Linked DNA regions of Homo sapiens. The protein of the gene in region 2 purifies or fractionates together with the protein of the main gene of each other region. This does not show direct contact. Each region holds a gene or a part of one and is shown on either strand. Other genes may lie near its edges.

Evidence for each region.
Region 1: the proteins of PARP16 (region 2) and ECSIT purify together in Homo sapiens (affinity purification with mass spectrometry, with the first as the bait; one large-scale study listed by BioGRID). This does not show direct contact.
Region 3: the proteins of PARP16 (region 2) and DDX20 purify together in Homo sapiens (affinity purification with mass spectrometry, with the first as the bait; one large-scale study listed by BioGRID). This does not show direct contact.
Region 4: the proteins of PARP16 (region 2) and LRBA purify together in Homo sapiens (affinity purification with mass spectrometry, with the first as the bait; one large-scale study listed by BioGRID). This does not show direct contact.
Region 5: the proteins of PARP16 (region 2) and SLC7A5 purify together in Homo sapiens (affinity purification with mass spectrometry; one large-scale study listed by BioGRID and IntAct). This does not show direct contact.

What each region holds. Positions count from the first base shown.
Region 1 is NC_000019.10:11,515,046-11,519,483, reverse strand, and holds part of ECSIT (evolutionarily conserved signaling intermediate in Toll pathway, mitochondrial isoform 1 precursor), read left to right. Parts: intron 1-290; 5' UTR 291-313; coding exon 314-409; intron 410-4,438.
Region 2 is NC_000015.10:65,279,446-65,283,883, reverse strand, and holds part of PARP16 (protein mono-ADP-ribosyltransferase PARP16), read left to right. Parts: intron 1-4,438. UniProt on the Homo sapiens protein: Intracellular mono-ADP-ribosyltransferase that plays a role in different processes, such as protein translation and unfolded protein response (UPR), through the mono-ADP-ribosylation of proteins involved in those processes.
Region 3 is NC_000001.11:111,765,901-111,768,500, forward strand, and holds the end of DDX20 (probable ATP-dependent RNA helicase DDX20), read left to right. Parts: coding exon 1-999; 3' UTR 1,000-2,100; downstream 2,101-2,600.
Region 4 is NC_000004.12:151,008,279-151,012,716, forward strand, and holds part of LRBA (lipopolysaccharide-responsive and beige-like anchor protein), read right to left. Parts: intron 1-4,438. UniProt on the Homo sapiens protein: Involved in coupling signal transduction and vesicle trafficking to enable polarized secretion and/or membrane deposition of immune effector molecules. Involved in phagophore growth during mitophagy by regulating ATG9A trafficking to mitochondria.
Region 5 is NC_000016.10:87,859,115-87,863,552, reverse strand, and holds part of SLC7A5 (large neutral amino acids transporter small subunit 1), read left to right. Parts: intron 1-4,438. UniProt on the Homo sapiens protein: The heterodimer with SLC3A2 functions as a sodium-independent, high-affinity transporter that mediates uptake of large neutral amino acids such as phenylalanine, tyrosine, leucine, histidine, methionine, tryptophan, valine, isoleucine and alanine.

The DNA.
Region 1 (4,438 bases), on a different chromosome or scaffold from region 2:
GTGGCACGCGTCTGTAGTCCCAGCTTCTCGACGCTCTGGGGCTGGAGGATCACTTGGGCCCAGAAGTTGGAGGCTGCATTGAGCTATGATCACGCCCCTGGGGCAGCAGGATTAGGGTGCTGTCCCAAGAACAAAGTCTTTGAGTCATCAGCCTGTTTCTTGGGTAAGGTAAACATTGGGGCTGGTGAGTGAGCCACATAATCTGGAGTGTGCCCTCGACCCTGCGGGGCCCTTGCGTCTGTTAGCATCTGTAAGGTGCCAGGCTAATGCTGAATCTTCTTTTGGGCCAGGTGATTGTCTGACAAGCAGAGGCATGAGCTGGGTCCAGGCCACCCTACTGGCCCGAGGCCTCTGTAGGGCCTGGGGAGGCACCTGCGGGGCCGCCCTCACAGGAACCTCCATCTCTCAGGTAAGCACCAGCCAGGCAGTCTTTTGGGTAGAGGGAGGTAAGCTTGGGATTTGCTCCCAACTCCTTCAGAATCCACTCTGTGAAGCCAGTTCTGGTGAGTCTGGGCTGGCCTATCAGTGCCGAGGTCCCATTAAAAGTCCTTAGTTTATGTATGTATGTATGTTTATGTGTTTGTTTTTTGAGACAGTGTCTCTGTCACCAAGGCTGGAGTGCAGTAGTGTGATTACAGCTCACTGTAGTCTTGACCTCCCAGGTTCAAGCAATCCTCCCGCCTCATCCTCCCAAGTACCCAGGACTACAGGCACATACTACCACACCCGGCTAGTTTTTGTATTTTTTTTGTAGAGACGGGGTTTCACCATGTTGGGCAGGCTGGTCTTGAACTCTGGGCTCAAGTGATCCACCTGCGTCAGCCTCCCAAAGTGCTGGGATTACAGGCGTGAGCCACCGCGCCTGGCCAAAAGTCCATAATTTATTTATTTTTTTGAAACAAGGTCTTGCTCTATCACCCAGGCTGGAGTACAGTGGTGGAATCAGGGCTCACTGCAGCCTCAAACTCCTGGGCTCAAATGAGCCTCCCACCTCAGCCCCCTGAGTAGCTGGGATCACTGATTTGAGCCACCATGCCCAGCTAATTTTTTTTTTTTTAGATGGAATTTTGCTCTTGTCGCCAAAGCTGGAGTGCAGTGGCGTGGTCTTGGCTCACTGCAACCTCTGCCTCCTGGGTTCAAGTGATTCTCCTGCCTCAGCCTGCCGAGTAGCTGTGATTACAAGTGCACATCACCACGCCCAGCTAATTTTTGTAATTTTAGTAGAGACGCGGTTTTGCCATGTTGGCGAGGCTGGTCTCAAACTCCTGACCTCAGGTGATTCACCCGCCTCGGCCTCCCAGAGTGCTGGGATTACAGGCATAAGCCACCGCACCCGGCCGCTAATTTTTTTTTTTTTTAAGTATATGGTCTTGTTGTGTTGCCCAGACTGGTCTTGAACCTCTGGGCCCTCAGTCCTTCCACTTTGGCCTCCCAAAGTGCTAGGATTACAAGTGTGAGCCACTGTGCCTGGACCCTAATTTAAGAGATGCTAGTGCCTACGTGGGTGAGGGGATTGACTTTGAAAATAAGGATGTATGAGCTCGGTGGATTTGTGTGGTGACTGTGAGCAGCTCCTCCTGCATCTACTTGTGAAGATGGGGCAGAAAACTGAATTTCTTTCCTATACCCATAGTGACCAGATGGCGAAAGCAGATTGACAGCCATAGATAGCAATAACGATGATGGTGGGAATATTAATAGTTCCCATATTGAGCACTTACTCTGTGCCCGGCCCCGCACTATGCATTTCATTTACATTACCTCCTTTGCAGTGTTTCCCCCTCGTTAGGCATTTTAGAGCTTCCTTTCTGATTTTTACCCCAAAGTGGTACAATACTACACCACCTATATTATTAATTGACTGAAATTTCAGTTGTTTTTTGTTTTTGAGATGGAGTCTCCCTCTGTCACCCAGGCTGGAGTGCAGTGGCGTGATCTCAGCTCATTGCAACCTCTGCCTCCCGGGTTCAAGTGATTTTCCTGCCTCAGCCTCCTGAGTAGCTGGGATTACAGGTGTGCGGCACCACACCTGGCTAATTTTTGCATTTTTGGTAGAGATGGGGTTTCACCATGTTGGCCAGGCTGGTCTCAAACTCCTGACCTCAAGTGATCCACCCGCCTCTCAAAAGTGCTGGGATTACAGGCACGAGCCACTGCGCCCAACCTGAAATTTTACTGTAAATGAATGCCTTTTTTTTTTTTTAACATTGCCTTATCAAAGAACGATATGGGATGGCTGTGGGGACCGCAGAGTAGGGGGACTGAGGGCACTGACTCCATTCTCAGCTCTGATGCTTTGCAGCTGTGTAACACTGTGCATCCCACTTCATCTTCCTGAGCCTTGGTTTTTCTCATCTGTAAAATGAGTGCAGTAAGAGTACCCCCCACCTAGGGCCTCACATTTGTAAAGTGCTCAACTGTGTCTACAGTGGAAGAATATTTGGTAAATATTGTCTCTTTCTTTTGAGATAGGGTCTCGCTCTGTTGCCCATGCTGGAGTGTAGTGGCGTGATCTTGGCTCACTGCAACCTCGACCCGCCAGTCTCAATTGATCTGCCTACTTCAGCCTCCTGAGTAGCTGGGACTACATACATTCACCACCATGCCTGGCTAATTTTTGTATTTTTTTGTAGACATGAGGTTTCAGCAGGTTGCCCAGGCTGGTCTCAAACTCCTGACCTCAGGTGATCTGCCCGCCTCAGCCTCCCAAAGTGCTAGGATTACAGGTGTGAGCCACCGAGCCTGGACTAATATTGGCTCTTACTTGTTAGCGTTTTGTGTGTGTGTGTGTGTGTGTGTAGATAAACACACACACATTCATTTATTTTTTAGAGATAAGGTTTTACTCTCTCGTTCAGGTTGGAGTGCAGTGACACAATCATAGCTCACTGCAGCCTGGGATTCCTGGGCTTAAGCAGTCCTCCTGCTTCAGCCTCCTGAGTAGCTGGGACTACAGGTATACACCACCACGCCCCGCTTATTTTTTTATTTTTTCATAGAGAGATGGAGTCTCACTATGTTGCCCAGGCTGCAATGCGGTGGTGCAATCAAAGCACAGTACAACCTTGATAACTAGCTGTATATTTTTAAGATGCCTTATATGTAACCCTTCTAATTTAAAAATTCAATTTAAAATAAGAAATTTGTTACTGTGTCATCTAGAACCAGAATTTGGCTACTCTGGAGGCTGAGGTGGGAGGATCACTTGAGCCCAGGAGTTCTGGGCTGTTGTGCACTATGCTGATGGAGTGTCCTGCACTAAGTTTTGCTTAATATTGTGACCTCCTGGGACTTGGGGGACCACCAGGTTGCCTAAGGAAGTGTGAACTGACCCAGGTTGGAAACAGCAGGTCAAAACTCCTGTGCTGACCAGTTGGCTCATGCCTGTGAATAGCCACTGCACTCCCGCCTGGGCAACATAGCTAGACTCCATCTCTTAAAGGGTCCCAGCACTTTGGGAGGCCACGGTGGGTGGATCACCTTAGGTCAGGAATTCGAGACCATCCTGGCCAACATGGTGAAACCCCGTCTCTACTAAAAACACAAAAATTAGGCCGGGCATGGTGGCTCACATCTGTAATCCCAGCACTTTGGGAGGCCGAGGTGGGCGGATCACAAGGTCAGGAGTTCAAGACCAGCCTGGCCAACATGGTGAAACCCTGTCTCTACTAAAAATACAAAAGTTAACTGGGCATGGTGGCATGTGCCTGTAATCCCAGCTACTTGGGAGGCTGAGGCAGAAGAATTGCTTGAACCAGGGAGTCAGAGGTTATAGTGAGCTGAGATCGTGTGACTGCACTCCAGCCTGGCAACAGAGCGAGACTCCATCTCAGGAAAAACAAACAAACAAAACATAAAAATTAGCTGGGCATGGTGGCAGGCGCCTGTAATCCTAGCTACTTGGGAGGCTGAGGCAGGAGAATCGCTTGAACCCACAAGGCAGAGGTTGCAGTGAGCTGAGATGACACCATTGCATTCCAGCCTGGGCGACGAGTGAAACTCTGTCTCAAGAAAAAAAGAAAAAGAAAGAAGGGGCTGGGTACAGTGGCTCATGCCTGTAATCTCAAGACTTAAGGTGGCTACGCCGGGCGCGGTGGCTCATGCCTGTAATCCCAGCACTTGGGAGGCCAAGGCGGGCGGATCACGAGGTCAGGAGATCGAGACCATCCTGACTAACACAGTGAAACCCCGTCTCTACTAAAAATCCAAAAAATTAGCTGGGCGTGGTGGCAGGCGCCTGTAGTCCCAGCTACTCAGGAGGCTGAGGCAGGAGAATGGCGTGAACCCGGGAGGTGGAGCTTGCAATGAGCCGAGATCGCGCCACTGCACTCCAGCCTGGGTGACAAAGCGAGACTCTGTCTCAAAAAAAAAAAAAAAAAGACTTGGGGAGGCTGAGGCAGGTGGATCACTTGAGGCCTGGAGTTTGAGACCAGCCTGG
Region 2 (4,438 bases):
GTTCAGATACTCAATTTTCTGAGTGTGGTGTATCAGGACCTTGGGTACGAAACTTCATTCAGTTTTGGCAACAGATACTTATGGAGTGTTTGCTATGGGACAGGTGCTAAGGATACAGGATTAACCCGTGGAGAGGTTAACAGTGTTAACCTCTCATACTAGGTAAGCGCCGTACAACATGGAAGCCCAGAGCAAGGACACCCCCTAGCTCTCAGCTTTGGGCCAGGCTCAGGGAACACCATCTAGGGGTGGAGGCTGATGCCTTGCCAAGTCCCAAGGCAGAACTTCAAGAGCAGAGAAGAGGGAAAGAGTATTCCAGGAGGAGTAGCAGGATGGTCAGCCAGGAGGTGTGAGCTTACAGAGAAGGACAAGACTGTGATTTAGTGTGACTGTTGTGGGGAACAGGAAGAGATGAGGCCAGCCTATGGAGCATGCAAGGCTACACATGCCCTGCTAAGTTGTGGAGATTTTTATCCTTGGGCAGGGGAGGGTATAGAGGTGAGATCCAGAAAGACACCTGTGGTGGCAGGGTGAGAGAGGGACCTGTTTGGGAGGAGTGTTTGGGGTCAGAGGGATCAAACTCACAATGCAGCTTTTTTTAAAAAAAAAAATTGAGATGGGGTCTCACAACGTTGTCCAGACTGGTCTTGAACTCCTGGGCGCAAGCAATTCTCCCACCTCAGCCTTCCAAAGTGCTGGGATTACAGGCTTGAGCCACTGCACTTGGCCACAGTGCAGCTTTAATTTTTACCAAGAAACATATCTCTAAGTGGACTAGAATCTGGAACTTATTTTCTTTCTGCTGGAAGGTCTTGGCGAATGCAATCAGGTTTGTTTGGTGAATATGGGATACATGCAAAGGGGCTTGTGGAGTTGTTTTGATCATGCTTTTTAAAATTTATTTTTAATTATGCAGGTAATGTTTGAATATATTCTCATTATAAAAAATTCAAATGATACCAGTAAAGTAAAAGTGCCCCTGATAGATCTCACTCTATCCCTCACCCCTCTGCAAAGGTATCAATTGCTCTGTTTGGGGCCCATCCTCCCCCTTCTCCCTTGCCCCACTTGTAATCCCTTAAGAGAGCATCAGCAACGTAGGTTGCCCCAAAAAGCCACCTCCTCTATAGAGACAGACTGCCCCTCCCATGGGGTTTATTGTACCAGTCCCAGATAGTTACCCTTTCTCTTGAGGGCTACTGGAGAAACACGCATTCTTACCATCCATTTCTGTTGCCATATTCCTTATAGGGCACCATTGTTGAGGAAAATAGCCCAGACTACATAGATTCTTGGCTGTCTGTAGGCATGGCCGTCAGCAGCAAGACTGCTCACAGGTGGGGCCTGGCACCATTTCTGGGGACATGCATACATTCTTAGATAAACACACACTTTAGGCCTCGTTTTGCCACGTCACATGAGTTACTGAAATGATGCAGAGAACTGGGCATCTGGATCTGTATCTGAATCAAAGTCTAACTTTTAAAGAAAAGGGAATCAGGTCTGGAATGGACTGGCTAGATCATTTTGTAGTTACCTGAAGAAGGAAAGTATGGAGCTGTTAAAAAGTCTCTTGGCTGGGCACGGTGGTTCACACCTGTAATCCCAGCCCTCTGGGAGGCTGGGGCGGGTCATTTGAGTCCAGGAGTTTGAAAGCAGCCTGGGCAACATGGCGAAACCCTGTCTTTATAAAAAGATTACAAAAAATTAGCCTGTGTGGTGGTGCACGCCTGTAGTCCCAGCTACTTGGGAGGCTGAGGTCGGAGGTTCACCTGAACCAGGAGGTCAAGGCTGTAGTGGGCCGTGATTGTGCCACTGCACTCCATTCTGGGTGACAAAGTGGGACCCTGTCTCAAAAAAAGTCTCTCACTTTCATTTGTTCAGCTAAAAGCACTAGGAAGTAATGTGAAAGTTTACCATTTTCAGTCATTTAAATCTTTGTCCACACTGTGAGGTGTTATTACACACCTATAACACAAGGGTTGCAGTTTCCAAAAATTAGACCTGTGCCTTAAATTACTTTATTGATTGGTGATTTCCTGAGAACTCCCCACTGCTGAACCAAGCTCTTGGCTTTAGGTCTGATCTAGCCTTATCTTACCACTGTCCTCAAAGTCCCAAATTATCCCTGAGGTGTCTTGTTTTGAGACCATTTTCGTGCTGATAAGCTCTCTGATTTTTTTTTTTTTTTTGAGATGGAGTTTCCCTCTTGTTGCCCAGGCTGGAGTGCAATGGCGCGGTCTCGGCTCACTGCAACCTCTGCCTCCTGGGTTCAAGCGATTCTCCTGCCTCAGTCTCCCTAGTAGTTGGGATTACAGGCAGATGCCATGACGCCCAGCTAATTTTTGTATTTTTAGTAGAGATAGGGTTTCACCATGTTGGTCAAGGCTGGTTTTGAACTCCTGACCTCAGGTGATTCGCCCTCCTCGGCCTCCCAAACTGCTGGGATTACAGGCATGAGCCACCGTGCCTGGCCAGCTCTCTGATTTTACACTGGGAGCTCTTGGTATTTCCAGTGCCTGGCCTGGGAAGTACTTATCAAATGTTTGAGGAATCACATTGTGCGTGTGCTGAATACCCAGGCTCAGGATTTCTCACCTTGCTTTTTGGGACCAGGGTTGGATGAGAGAACCTGTAACATTCTTGGGATTCCCTGTACCCCTTAACCATTGGCCTCCGAACTTCAGGTTTGTCACTTGACACAGTCGCAGCTGTACAGTTTTTTGTTCTGTTTTCCCTCCCGAAATAGCATGTTCTGGTTCTCCATTAGCCTGTAGACCCTTTCTGGGGGTGGGAAGTGTGTGGGAATGGCTTCTTTGTGTTAGCTCCAGGCCCTCGCTGCTTAGTGTGGTTGAGGACCAGCAACATGAGCCTCACCTGGGTGCTCATTAGAAAAGCAGGTCCTGCCTCAGACCTATCCAGTCAGGATCTGCATTTTAACAAATCTGGGCAATTTGTACACATAGTGAAGTCTGAAAAGCACTGCATGAAGCTTACCCTGTTCTCATTTGGGGTGCCAAACTGCTCTAATTGGGCCTCCTGGTCCTGGAGGAGTAAGGAGTCTTTCTCTTTTTTTTCCTCCCTCTTTCTGGTTTCTGGCTTGCACTGTCTAGACACCATGACTCCCCAGTGTCTGGGTTAAAGCGCATATAAGCTCCTCTCTGTCCTGAGCCCTCCTGATGCCATTTCCATCTTTGTTGAAGCAAACTCCCTCTCATCCTTTAAGATACACGTGAAATTTCCACCTTATTCTGTGCCTCCACTCCCTAGCAGTTAGGAGTCCTTCTTTTGGGTTTCTTTATAATTTTAAAATTTTGCTTTTATAAATAATACTTTGATAAACATCCTTCTACATTAATCATTGTTTATATCTGTTGTTGTCTTCTTGGATACATTCTGAGAGGTGAAATTGCTGGTCCATGGCTAATTTTTTTTTTTTTTTTTTTTGAGACGAGTTCTTGCTCTGTTGCCCAGTTTGGAGTGCAGTGGCGTGATCTTGGCTCAGTGCAACCTCTGCCTCCCGGGCTCAAGCGATCCTCCTACGTCAGCCTCCCGTGTAGCTGGGACTCCACGCACATACCACTAAGCCTGGCTAATTTTTGTATTTTTAGTAGAGATGGGGTTTCACCATGTTGCCCAGGCTGGTCTCAAACTCCTGGAGTCAAGCAATCCGCCTGTCTCAACCTTCCAAAATGCTGGGATTACAGGCGTGAACCACCACACCTGGCTCATGGCTAACCTTTCTAAGGAAGGCTTTCGATGCTTATTTCCATATTGGAAATTGAATATTGACATTAACTGGGGAAGATCGTTATTATTATTATTATTGGATTAAAAGAAAAAAGGCAGGAGTCTCGCTATGTTGCCTAGCTGGTCTACAAACTCCTGGTCTCAAGCAGGAGTTGTGTCATTGAGCCCGGTTTGGAAAGATCATTCTTTACAAGCCTCTCAACCTTGGTTGTCATTGAAATCACGTGGGAAACTAAGGAAAAAAAAAAACCCTGACGTCTGAGCCCCATCCTCAGAGATTCTCATTTGATTGGTTTAAAGTGCAGCCTTGGCATTGAGATTTTTTGTTTGTTTCCTTACAGATAATATGTAGCTTTTCTATTTTTCTAGTAACTGATTTGATCATTTTCATGAGCACCCATACCTGCTGGATGGTGAGGAAATGATAACAATTAGATTTGTTAATAATAAAAGTGCCTATTAGGTCTATACTTGATATCTCAAGGTAAGATTCTTGATCTCTCAGATTACCTTTTTATTTCTCTGCTCCTCTCAAAGATGGCATCTGAACAGTGGAGGAGAAAAAGTACACAGGTCTGAAAATATATGGATACAGACATAGATACATATAATATTATGTGACTGTCAGTGGGTAGGTATGTGTCTAGAAAGATATCAGCTAATGGGATGGTGATATGGAGGGTGAAGG
Region 3 (2,600 bases), on a different chromosome or scaffold from region 2:
ATGGCTTCCTCTAGAAATAATTCTGTATCTGGACTATCAGTCAAATCAAAAAATAATACCAAACAAAAGCTTCCTGTGAAAAGCCACTCAGAATGTGGAATCATAGAAAAAGCAACGTCACCAAAAGAACTGGGCTGTGACAGGCAATCCGAAGAGCAAATGAAGAATTCTGTTCAGACTCCCGTTGAAAACTCCACCAACAGTCAGCACCAGGTCAAAGAAGCTTTACCTGTGTCACTCCCCCAGATTCCTTGTCTGTCTTCCTTTAAAATCCATCAGCCATACACGTTGACTTTTGCTGAATTGGTAGAGGATTATGAACATTATATTAAAGAGGGGTTAGAGAAACCTGTGGAAATCATCAGGCACTACACAGGCCCTGGGGATCAGACTGTGAATCCTCAAAATGGTTTTGTGAGAAATAAAGTTATTGAACAGAGAGTCCCTGTGTTGGCAAGTAGTAGCCAATCTGGAGACTCTGAGAGTGACAGTGATTCTTACAGCTCAAGAACCTCTTCCCAGAGCAAAGGAAATAAGTCATACTTGGAAGGCTCTTCTGATAATCAGCTGAAAGACTCTGAATCTACGCCTGTGGATGATCGTATTTCTTTGGAACAACCACCAAATGGAAGTGACACCCCCAATCCAGAGAAATATCAAGAATCACCTGGAATCCAGATGAAGACAAGACTTAAAGAGGGGGCTAGCCAGAGAGCTAAGCAGAGCCGGAGAAACCTACCCAGGCGGTCTTCCTTCAGATTGCAGACTGAAGCCCAGGAAGATGATTGGTATGACTGTCATAGGGAAATACGTCTGAGTTTTTCTGATACCTATCAGGATTATGAGGAGTACTGGAGAGCTTACTACAGGGCATGGCAAGAATATTATGCTGCCGCTTCTCATTCATATTATTGGAATGCTCAGAGACATCCAAGTTGGATGGCAGCTTATCACATGAATACCATTTATCTACAAGAAATGATGCATAGTAACCAGTGATTATAGGATATACCTGAGACCATCAGGAACTGTCAACAAATGATACCTTTGGATATCCATCCTCCTCGACTTATAGTACAGTGGTGTATAGTGGCATTTCTGATAAACTTGAAAAGACTTGAGTCTTTCCACTGGGACACATCCATTTTTCAGATTGTTTTGATTTAGGCCAGGTATATTATCTTCATTTTTAAGAGTTTCTTTAAGAAACTTCATCAGATTGTTGAAAGATAATTTTTGGGACATAGAGCTGAAAGTTTCAGGGTGCCATTTTCTATAAGATCTTCCCAAAAGAAACATTTAAAAAGATGACATATACCACCACTTACTTAAAAACAATAAAAGCAATAGATTTGATTAGTAATATTATTGCTGTGGAGTTCTTTACAAAGGGCTTAGGCTGCATTTCCTTCTATAGAGGTGCATTCTTGTAGAAATTTGTAGCATGGTAGATCAGAAAATCCTCTTAGGTTTTAGGCAGGAAGGAATATTTAAACATTGCTTTAGATTTTCCTAAAGGTATTTGATTTGATCTGTTAGCTTCCAGTAAAAATATTTGTTTTTAGTAAAAACAAATTTAAATATATTTACATGTTTGTTGTTTATCTTTTGAATGTCTTTTGAGGCTGTGAAAGCTGTCCACATTTTTGCTGTGTATTAAATAGCTGTGGGTCATCAGTTGCTGTCTTACTTGTGTTGCTCAGATAGAGGAGCAGCTCTTAATCTTTTTTGGTTCTTGGATCCTTTTATGAATCAGCTGATAGCTATAGATTGACTTCAGGAAATTTCTCATTCCATAAGCACAGAATTGTGAGTGTAATTTCAAGGGGTTCATAGACCCTCTGAAGTTCATCTATACAGTCCAGATTAACAAGTGACCTGCTCTGCTGGTAGGCTAGGGGAAGTTCTAGCTCTTAGTTTTAAGTATTTTGTGGAAGCTGGAATTGATTCTCTTCAGACACTTCTTAGTACATCCTAATTTTGTGTCTTCTAGAAAATTTTCCCCAGTTTTTACCTCTAATGTTAGGATCCAAGAGGAGCTTGGATCTGAGCTGATGCATCTGTAAATTACGATTTAGAAAAATATAATTGGAAATTACATATTCTTTGCTTTTTTCCTCTGGAAATCCTTTTATGATTAAGCTTTTGGTTCCCAAGCCTTTCTGTGAACTGGATTTTTTATGAGAGAACCACTTGTGTAGAGAGATGTGTATTCACTTTTTAAAAGGAAAGCTCTTCTTTCCTGTGTACATACTTGTCTAGGTAGTATAAACACTTTCCCCAGGGCTGTCAGCAAACACCCACAGCCATTGTCATTTATTGTCCAACACCTACATAACACAATTCTAAAATCCTACTTAACTTGGATTCCTGTCATTTGGATTGGGCAATATTAGGCTTTTCTTACATGTGTCAGTATGTGAATTAATTAATAATGTAGATAGCAAATCCATAATTAGGTCCAGTATGTCATTAAGAAGTAGAGATTTTAATTACACATTTAAATAAGATCCTGTCATTGATATATAATTGAATTTACTTTTTCCATCCTTTCCCCCACAATACAGCCAAGTTCAGTTTGTCATTGCTGGGGGATTTTA
Region 4 (4,438 bases), on a different chromosome or scaffold from region 2:
CCATGTTGGTCAGGCTGGTCTCAAACTCCAGACCTCAGGTGATCCACCTGCCTCAGCCTCTCAAAGTGCTGTGATTACAGGCATGAGCCACCGCACCCAGCCTAAAATTAGTGGTTTTTATGGCATGTAAAATACAGTTGTCCCTTGCTATACTGGGGACATTGGTTCCAGGACTCCTGCATAGACCAAAATCTGAGCATACTCAGATAAGTCCTGCAATGGCCCTGTGGAACCCAGTGATATAAAAAGTAAGCCCTTAGTATGCAACAGTTTCACATCCCAGGAATACTGTATTTTCAATTCGAGTTTGGTTGAAAAAAAAAATCACCATATAAATGGACCCATGCAGTTCAAACTCATGTTATTCAAGAGTCAACTGCATATCTCAATGAAGGTTTAAAAAAGCCACCTCTAGGCTGGGCGCAGTGGCTCACGCCTGTAATCCGAGCACTTTGGGAGGCTGAGGCAGGCGGATCACGAGGTCAGGAGTTCAAGAACAGTCTAGCCAACGTGGTGAAACGCCATCTCTACCAAAAATACAAAAATTAGCCGGGCTTGCTGGTGCATCCCTGTAATACCAGTTACTCAGGAGGCTGAGATAGAATTGCTTGAACCCGGGAGGCGGAGGTTGCAGTGAGCCAAGATCACGCCACTGCACTCCAGCCTGGGTGGCAGAGTGAGACTCCATCTCAAAAAAAAAAAAAAAAAAAATATATATATATATATATATATATATATATATATATATAAAATGGTATTTTTTTTTCTTATACAGACAAGGTCTTACTATGTTGCACAGGCTGGTGTTGAACTTCTGACCTCAAACTTCTGACCTCCCACCTCAGCCTCCCAAACTGCTGGGATTATAGGCATGAGCCACTGTGCCCAGCTCAAATTTTCAAATATAGAGTACAACTGTTTATATAGAATTTACATTCTATTAGGTATTCTAAGTAATCTAGAGATGATTTAAAGTATATGGGAGAAAGCCGGGCATGGTGGCTCAAACTTGTAATCCCAGCATTTTCAGGAAGCCAAGGCAGGCAGATCACTTGAGGCCAGGAGTTTGAGACCAGCCTGGCCAACATGGTGAAACCCCGTCTCTACTAAAAATACAATAATTAGCTGGGTGTGGTGGCACACGCCTGTAATCCCAGCTACTCAGGAGGCTGAGGCAGGAGAATTGCTTGAACCCAGGAAGTGGAGGTTACACTGAGCCAAGATCGCGCCACTGCACTCCAGCCTGGTGAGGGAGCAAGACTCTGTCTCAAAAAAAAAAAAAAAAACTAGCGGGTTTTGGTGGCATACGCCTCTAAGTCCTAGCTACTCAGGAGACTGAGGCAGGAGAGCAGCTTAAGCCCAGGAATTTGAGGCTACAGTGAGCTATGATCAAGCCACTGTACTCAAGCCTGGGCAACAGAGCAAGGCGCGGTGGCTCACGCCTGTAATCCCAGCACTTTGAGAGGCCAGGGCGGGTGGATCACGAGGTCAGGAGATCCAGGCCATCCTGGCTAACACGGTTAAACCCTGTCTCTACTAAAAATACAAAAAATTAGCTGGGCGTGGTGGCACGTGCCTGTAGTCCCAGCTACTTGGGAGGCTGAGGCAGGAGAATGGCGTGAACCTGGGAGGCGGACCTTGCAGTGAGCCGAGATCGCGCCACTGCACTCCAGCATGGGGGACAGAGTGAGGCTCCATCTCAAAAAAATAAATAAATAAATAAATAAATAAATAAAAATTTTAAAGAGATGATTTAAAGTATACGGAAGATACATGTAAGTTATATGCAAATACTATACCATTTTATATAAGAGACTGGAGCTTCTGAAAATTGTGGTATCCACTAGGGGTTCTGGAACCAATCCCCCACATATCAAGGGGTGACTGTAATTACTTAACAAAAATTTTTTAAAAAATCATGAAAGTATGTATTTGTCACCAGCTCATGGGAATCACTATTCTTGAATTAGGTAGCACTAAATACCTTTAAATACCTGATGGAAGCCTTAAACTCAGCAGCAAGTTCCTGAAAACATGCCAACATATATTAATTATTCTGGGTCTAAAAGTTTGACAAATTACTTTAAAATACAGATGAAAACAAAATAAAATGTTTTAAACTGCAACAAGAAAAATGTACAAGTTGACCAGAAGTTTGAAACACTTGACTACATTGGTGCACTGTTAATCAAAATTTATCTGCAAAACAGATTTGCAAAAGAAATTATAAACAGGGTAGTAAATTTCAAAGTAATTTATAACAGACTAAGGTCAAGCTACATTAGCAAAGTTGGAAGGTAGCACTTAAGAAAAAACTCTGGGCCAGGCACGGTGGCTCACACCTGTAATCCCAGCACTTTGGGAAGGCCAAGGCAGGCAGATCACCTGAGGTCGGGAGTTCAAGACCAGCCTGGCCAACATGGTGAAACCTAATTTCTACTAAAAATACAAAAAAATTAGCCGGGCATGGTGGTGCGTGCCTGTAGATCCAGCTACTGGGGAGGCTGAGGCACAAGAATTGCTTGAATCCGAGCAGCAGAGGTTGCAGTGAGCTGAGATCGCACCACTGCACTCCAACCTGGGTGACAGAGTGAGACTCCCTCTCAATTAAAAAAAAAAAAAAAAAAGGCCGGGCACAGTGGTTCACGCCTGTAATCCCAGCACTTTGGGAGGCTGAGGCAGGCGGATCACGAGGTCAGGAGATCGAGACCATCCTGGCTGACACGGTGAAACCCCGTCTCTACTAAAAATACAAAAAATTAGCTGGGCGTGGTGGCGGGCACCTGTAGTCCCAGCTACTTGGGAGGCTGACGCCGGAGAATGGCATGAACCCAGGAGGCGGAGCTTGCAGTGAGCTGAGATCGCACCATTGCACTCCAGCCTAGGCAACAGAGCAAGACTCTGTCTCAAAAAAAAAAAAGAGAAAAAACTCTGGAAAGTTATATGGCTCTACCATGTACTATTTGGACACCTCTGGAGGAGAGGAACTTGTTCAATTTTAACAGTATAAACTTTATTGTTTAAGTAGCTAATATTTAGGCCAGGCGTGGTGGCTTAAGCCTGTAATTCCAGCACTTCAGGAGGCTGAACGGGTGGATCACCTGAGGTCAAGATTTTGAGACCAGCCTGGCCAACATGGTGAAACCCCGCCTCTACCAAAAATACAAAAATTAGTCGGGCCTCATGGCGCACGCCTGTGGTCCCAGCTACTTGGGAGTCTGAGGCAGGAGAATCACTTGAACTCAGGAGGCAGAGGTTGCAGGGAGGCAAGGTTGCACCACTGCACTCCAGCCTGGGCAACAGACTGAGACTCTATCTCAAAAAAAAAAAAAAAAAAAAAGACTAACTATCAATTAGGAAATATTTACGTGTAGCAGTACTAACAACATTGAGATGGACTAATTTACAGAATCCCAATACTTTCGTTCTAATTTTTTTTTTCAGGGTGTTGCTCTGCATGATTGTAGCTCACTGTAGCCTCGAACTCCTGGGCTCAAGGGATCCTCCCACCTCATCCTCCCAAGTAGCTGGGACCACAGGTATATGCCACCATGCCCAGCTAATTTTTTATTTAATTTTTTTTTTTGTAGAGACAGGGTCTCACTATAGTGCCCAGGCTGGTCTCAAACTCTTGGCCTCAAGTGAACCTCCCAAAGCTCTGGGATTACAAGCATGAGCCACTGTGCGCAGCTGCTTCCAAAGATTTTCTAGAGTGGCCAAAACCCCAGATAATCCATGAAAGAGCATGAAAAGTATTTTAAGGGACAATGGAAGGGGAGAAACTGCTACCTAATATTCTCAGCAACTTTTCCTGCCCTACCTGACAAGCGAATGATATTGAAGAGGAGGGTAACTAACTGAACAGACTCTTCTCTCTCCTTCTATCCAGGCACCTACTATCCTGCAAATACGCAGCTTTGAAGGACTTAACCAATGACCTTAAAATCTATACCAGGTCTACAGTTCTAGGAAGCGTATAAGCAAATGCTGCTATAGAATTTGGATTTTCTTTAATGATAAAAATGCAAATGACTCACGTTTGGTCATCCACTCCAACACAGCACATTCTAAAGAACAGGAGTTCAAATCCTCCTTCTGCCAAAAGATGTTGTGTCTTCACACACAAATAAGTAATTATGGATTATATTACTACCACAAATTTCTGTTTCTCACTGAAGGCATATGACATTTTAAAAAAGAACAAAAAATCAGAAAGGAAATGTTTCAAGTCTATTTTGAGGTAAAGCAATCAATTTACCATTTATCTTCCTCAGACTTACATATGAAAGCCCCACACACATGCGCACACACAAGATCCCCAAAATGTTGACAACTGTTGAAGCTGCACAACGGATACCAGAGTTCATTATACTATTCTATTTTTGCATATATTTGAACATTTCCATAATATGCAGTTTTTTAAAATATGCATGTGTGT
Region 5 (4,438 bases), on a different chromosome or scaffold from region 2:
GCCATATGGAACTTGGCATGACAGTAGGGTTGTGTGGTTATTTATTGCTTAACGAAGACTTGGCAGCGTGTACTGGAAATTCAAGCGATGCTGGGTTTTATCAGAAGGCGCAAAGGCTGGAGCTGAGATTCTGGCTGGGCCTGGATTTGGTTTGGGCAGTTTATCTGACCTCCCTGGGCCCCAGCTGGCTCTGCATAGCGAGTAGGGTAGCATCCACTCAAAGTCCCGGTCCACTGTGGCCCGGCACTGATCCAGGCGAGTTCTCAGTAAGTGGGAACTCACAGGTTCAGAAGATGCTGTGGGCCTCAGGGGCTTCCACCTCCAGGGAGGTGCTCTCAGAAGAAGGGCCCGATGGGCTCACTGCATCGTGGAGAAGATACCCTGGCTCAGTCTCAGTCACTTCTCCAAGCGCATAGGTGTTCGGGAAGTGGCCTGCAGACAGCTCCTCCATGCCTTGAAAGCAGAAGTAGCCCCCTCCTGTTTCCCTGTCCCAGTTGGGTGAAGCATGGGGGGCTGCTGAGACAGTCCCAGGCGTGCCGTCACGCAGGGGCAGGCCGTCCGTCGGTCTCGCGGGACTCTGGCTGCGGGTGGCTGAGGACACCTGGCCTCATGGGAGACGGTGCCAGGGTCCCTGGAGTGAGGTGGCTCTCCTCCCCATGGCTGTCACTCCTCAGCAGATTGGTGTGGGCGGGTATGCGTTTAGGAACCTGTGAGCTGAGACACTGTCCAGCTAGCATCAGGCCAAAAGCAACCAAGGCTTTGAGAAATCCACCTGGCCCCGCCGAGCCTGTTTCTGACTGTGGAATGGGATTGGCCCCAGCGCCAGGTGTCTGGGAATCCCAGGCCTCTGCGTGTGAAGGTGCCAGTTGCACGGGCTGTGACCGTCCCTCCACGTGCCTGTATCTCCTGCTCACTGTGCACATGGAGCAGCCCTCAGCCTCACTGTCTTCTCCTCTGGCAAAAGAAGGAAGGAGCAAGGGAACAAAGAGAGGGAGGGAAGAGCCAGAGACAGGAGCCAGGGTTTCCTTTAGTCTGGAGCTCTGGGTGCGAGATGATGTCACCCACCCACGCTCGGCACAGGCCCAGGGTCGGGGGGCTATGGGTGGAAGTAGGAATCGCCACAACTGTCTCTGAGCCCCTCCCTAAAGGGTGAAGGGTGTAAGGGGTGGGTTTTGATGGCTGTGGGCTTAGCTGTGGTCAGTGGACTCAAAGGCCAGTTGGCCAGTTAGCAGTGACCAGAGAGCAGAGGGGGCCTGTGTGTGTTTTGCCCCAGGGTCTTCAGGCTGCCTGGCTGCCTCTATCTGCCCCCTGGGTGTCCAGCACCACCCCCCCAACCGCTGGGGTATCCAGCACCTGTAACCTGTAGCCCCGCTTCTCAGTCCAGGCCTGTTCCAGGGCCCCCCTGGGGTATCAAGCACCTGTAGCCTGTAGCCCCACTTCTCAGTCCAGGCCTGTGTAAAACCTGGCCCCGGGTTGGGTTTTGGGATCCCTGCACCCCTCCACCCCCAACCCCCCACAGCTGGGATCCTGGCTCAGCTGGCAAAGGTTCTGCGTGTTTAAGGAGCTGGGTGGGCCCCAGAGCTCAAGCCGTGGGCTCATTGCAGGCGGCAGCCAGTGATTAGTGCTGAAATCTGACTTTCCCAGCCGCACATGAAAGTGCCGCCGGCACCTAGGCAGGTCACGCTGCATCACGGGATTCGGGGCAAGGCCGTAGGGGGAGCTCACAGAAGCACATGACCTGAGCCACACAGGAGAGCCTAACGGGCACTTGTGACCCTTTTTTCTTGGGTCACAGACCTCTTTCATAATCCAGCAGAATGTGCAGAATCTTGCCCAGAAATGTGTATCAGCCGCCTTCACACAGAAGGGTGGGTTGCGCAGACCCCCGGGGGCCCAGGCCAGGTTGAGAGCCACCCCCAGGAGAGGGGTGTCCAAGGTAGGGCACACTCTTGGACCACCTCTTGGCACCTCTTGGCCACCTCTTGGCCACCACTTTGCACTCCAGCCTTTGAAGCCAGTGATAATCCCCAATTTACAGCTGGGGAAACTGAGGCAGGAGCGAGCCAGGAGCCAGGGGCCACAGTGCCCACCTCTACACTGAGGCCACCATTTGTCATCAGGCATAGGGGAGCACAAAGCCACGCCTGGGGAGTCTGGTGGGTGCCAGGGGTCTGGGGAGGTGTCAGTCAGCAAGACTGGGTGGCCCAGTCGGCCCAGGTAAGGACACAGGTGGGTCAGAGGCTCATCTGTGTTCCCCAGCATCCCCTAGGGGCCCTTTGCGCTCCTCCACCCTTCTCCATCCTTCCCAGACTCACATCCAGGTACCCTGGACAGCCACAGGGTTCTGCCCCCCAGTAGGCCTGGCCCTCCCTGGAGCATCACCTGGATAGCTGGCCATGGGCAGGCCTTGCCTGGCCCGTCTGCAGGGACAGGACACGTGTATGCATGCAGATTGGTACTGTGTGCCCGCACGCTCCCCAGAGGCCCTGTGGCAGCACCCTCTTCCCGCTGCTGCCCTTTTCCAACAGGAGGGCCCCCCACAGCGTCTCCTTCCCTGATACTGGCCGAATCCTGAATTCTCCCTCTGGAAGGCGGACCCTCCGGGGTGGCCACAGCACGTGCGTGCCTCCGGGAGTGTGGGAGGCGTCTCTCCCTGCATCCCTGGCCGTCAGACCACCCCAGGTGGGGACCGTTCTCTGGCATTGCCCGCCCCTCCCCTGCCCTAGGATTTGCCCACTACGTGAGGAATGAGCACCGACCTCCTATTCTGGGCCTTGGAGCGTGACGCCCGCAAACTCGATCCCTGCTGAGTCATCCTGACCTCGGGGTGGGCCAGCATCTGTCACTACTGAGACACTGTATGTGTGAGCTGCTTGTTAACGAGAAAGCCAGACTCTGTAAAATGTTTGAAGAGATTTATCCGGAGTCAAATGTGAGGACCAAGGCCTGGAGGCCCTGAGGACATGTGCCCCAGGGGGTGGGCCACAGCTGGAGTTCATACCTCCTACAAGGACAGAAGTTACAGGCAGACATCAGTCAGTACATGAAAGGTATTTGTTGGTTCTGCCGAGAAAGGCGGGACAACTCCAAGGCGGGGATGGGCTTCCTGGTCACAGGTGGGTTCGAAGATTTCCTTTTTCTTTATATATATATGTGTGTGTGTGTGTGTGTGTGTGTGTGTGTGTGTGTGTGTGTGTGTGTGTGTGTGTGTATTTTTTTTTTTTTTTGAGATGCTTTTGTTACTCGGGCTGGAGTGCAGTGGTATGATCTCAGTTCACTGCAACCTCCGCCTCCTGGGTTCAAGTGATTCTCCTGCCTTAGCTTCCCGAGTAGCTGGGACTACAGGCATGCACCACCATGCCCAGCTAATTTTGTGTTTTTAGTAGAGACGGGGGTTTCACCATGTTGGTCAGGCTGGTTTCGAACTCTTGATCTCAGGTGATCCGCCCACCTTGGCTTCCCAAAGTGCTGGGATTACAGGTGTGAGCCACCGTGCCTGGCAAAAGATTTTCTGATTCACAATTGGTTGAAAGAGTTATTAGCTAAAGACCTGGTATCAATAGAAAGGAGTATCTGGGTAAGACAGGAGGTTGTGGAGACGAATATTGTGTTTTGTTTTGTTTTGTTTTGTTTTGTTTTTGTCACCCAGGCTGGAGTGCAGTGGCATGATCTCAGCTCACTGCAACCCGGTTCAAGCGATTCTCCTGCCTCAGCCTCGCAAGTAGCTGGGATTGCAGGTGCCTGCCGCCACCATGCCTGGCTAATTTTGTATTTTTAGTAGAGATGGGGTTTCTCCATGTTGGTCGGGCTGGTCTCGAACTCCTGACCTCGTGATCTGCCCACCTCAGCCTCCCAAAGTGCTGGGATTACAGGCATGAGCCACTGAGCCAGGCCAAGATCTGTGTTTGAGTGTTAGTGCTGGTCCGCTGTACCTGAATTCCAGAGGGAGGGGGTATAACAAGGCCTGTGTGACCCCCTCTTCCCATCGTGACCTGAGCTCGTTTTTCAGGTTAACTTTGGAATATCCCTTTGGCAATAGGAGGGGTCCCTTTAGTCAGTTACGGGGCTTAGAATTTTATTTTTGGTGTACGTGCTCAAACTGCAGCTGCTACAAAACCAAGGCCATGGTGACCCCGGGGCCAGTCCAGCTTTGTCCCTGTGCTCTCGAGCTGCTGGAGGCCAATGCAGGATTCTGTCCACGGCTCTCATGTGTGGCTTCAGAGCCTGAGGGTTCTTGGGGCCCTGTCTTCACCTGCTACCGTGTAGGGGCCTTGTGAGCTGAGTCAACTGGAAGAGCCCAGGGCCTCTGCAGAAGGCCTGAGCAGGGCCCGGGCACTGTCCCTGGAGCTCTGAGTCCCTCAAGCTGTGTGGCCCGGAGCCAGGCGCTTGACTTCTCTGGTCGTTTGCTTCAGAGCTGGAAGCCTGGGGTGACGTGGGT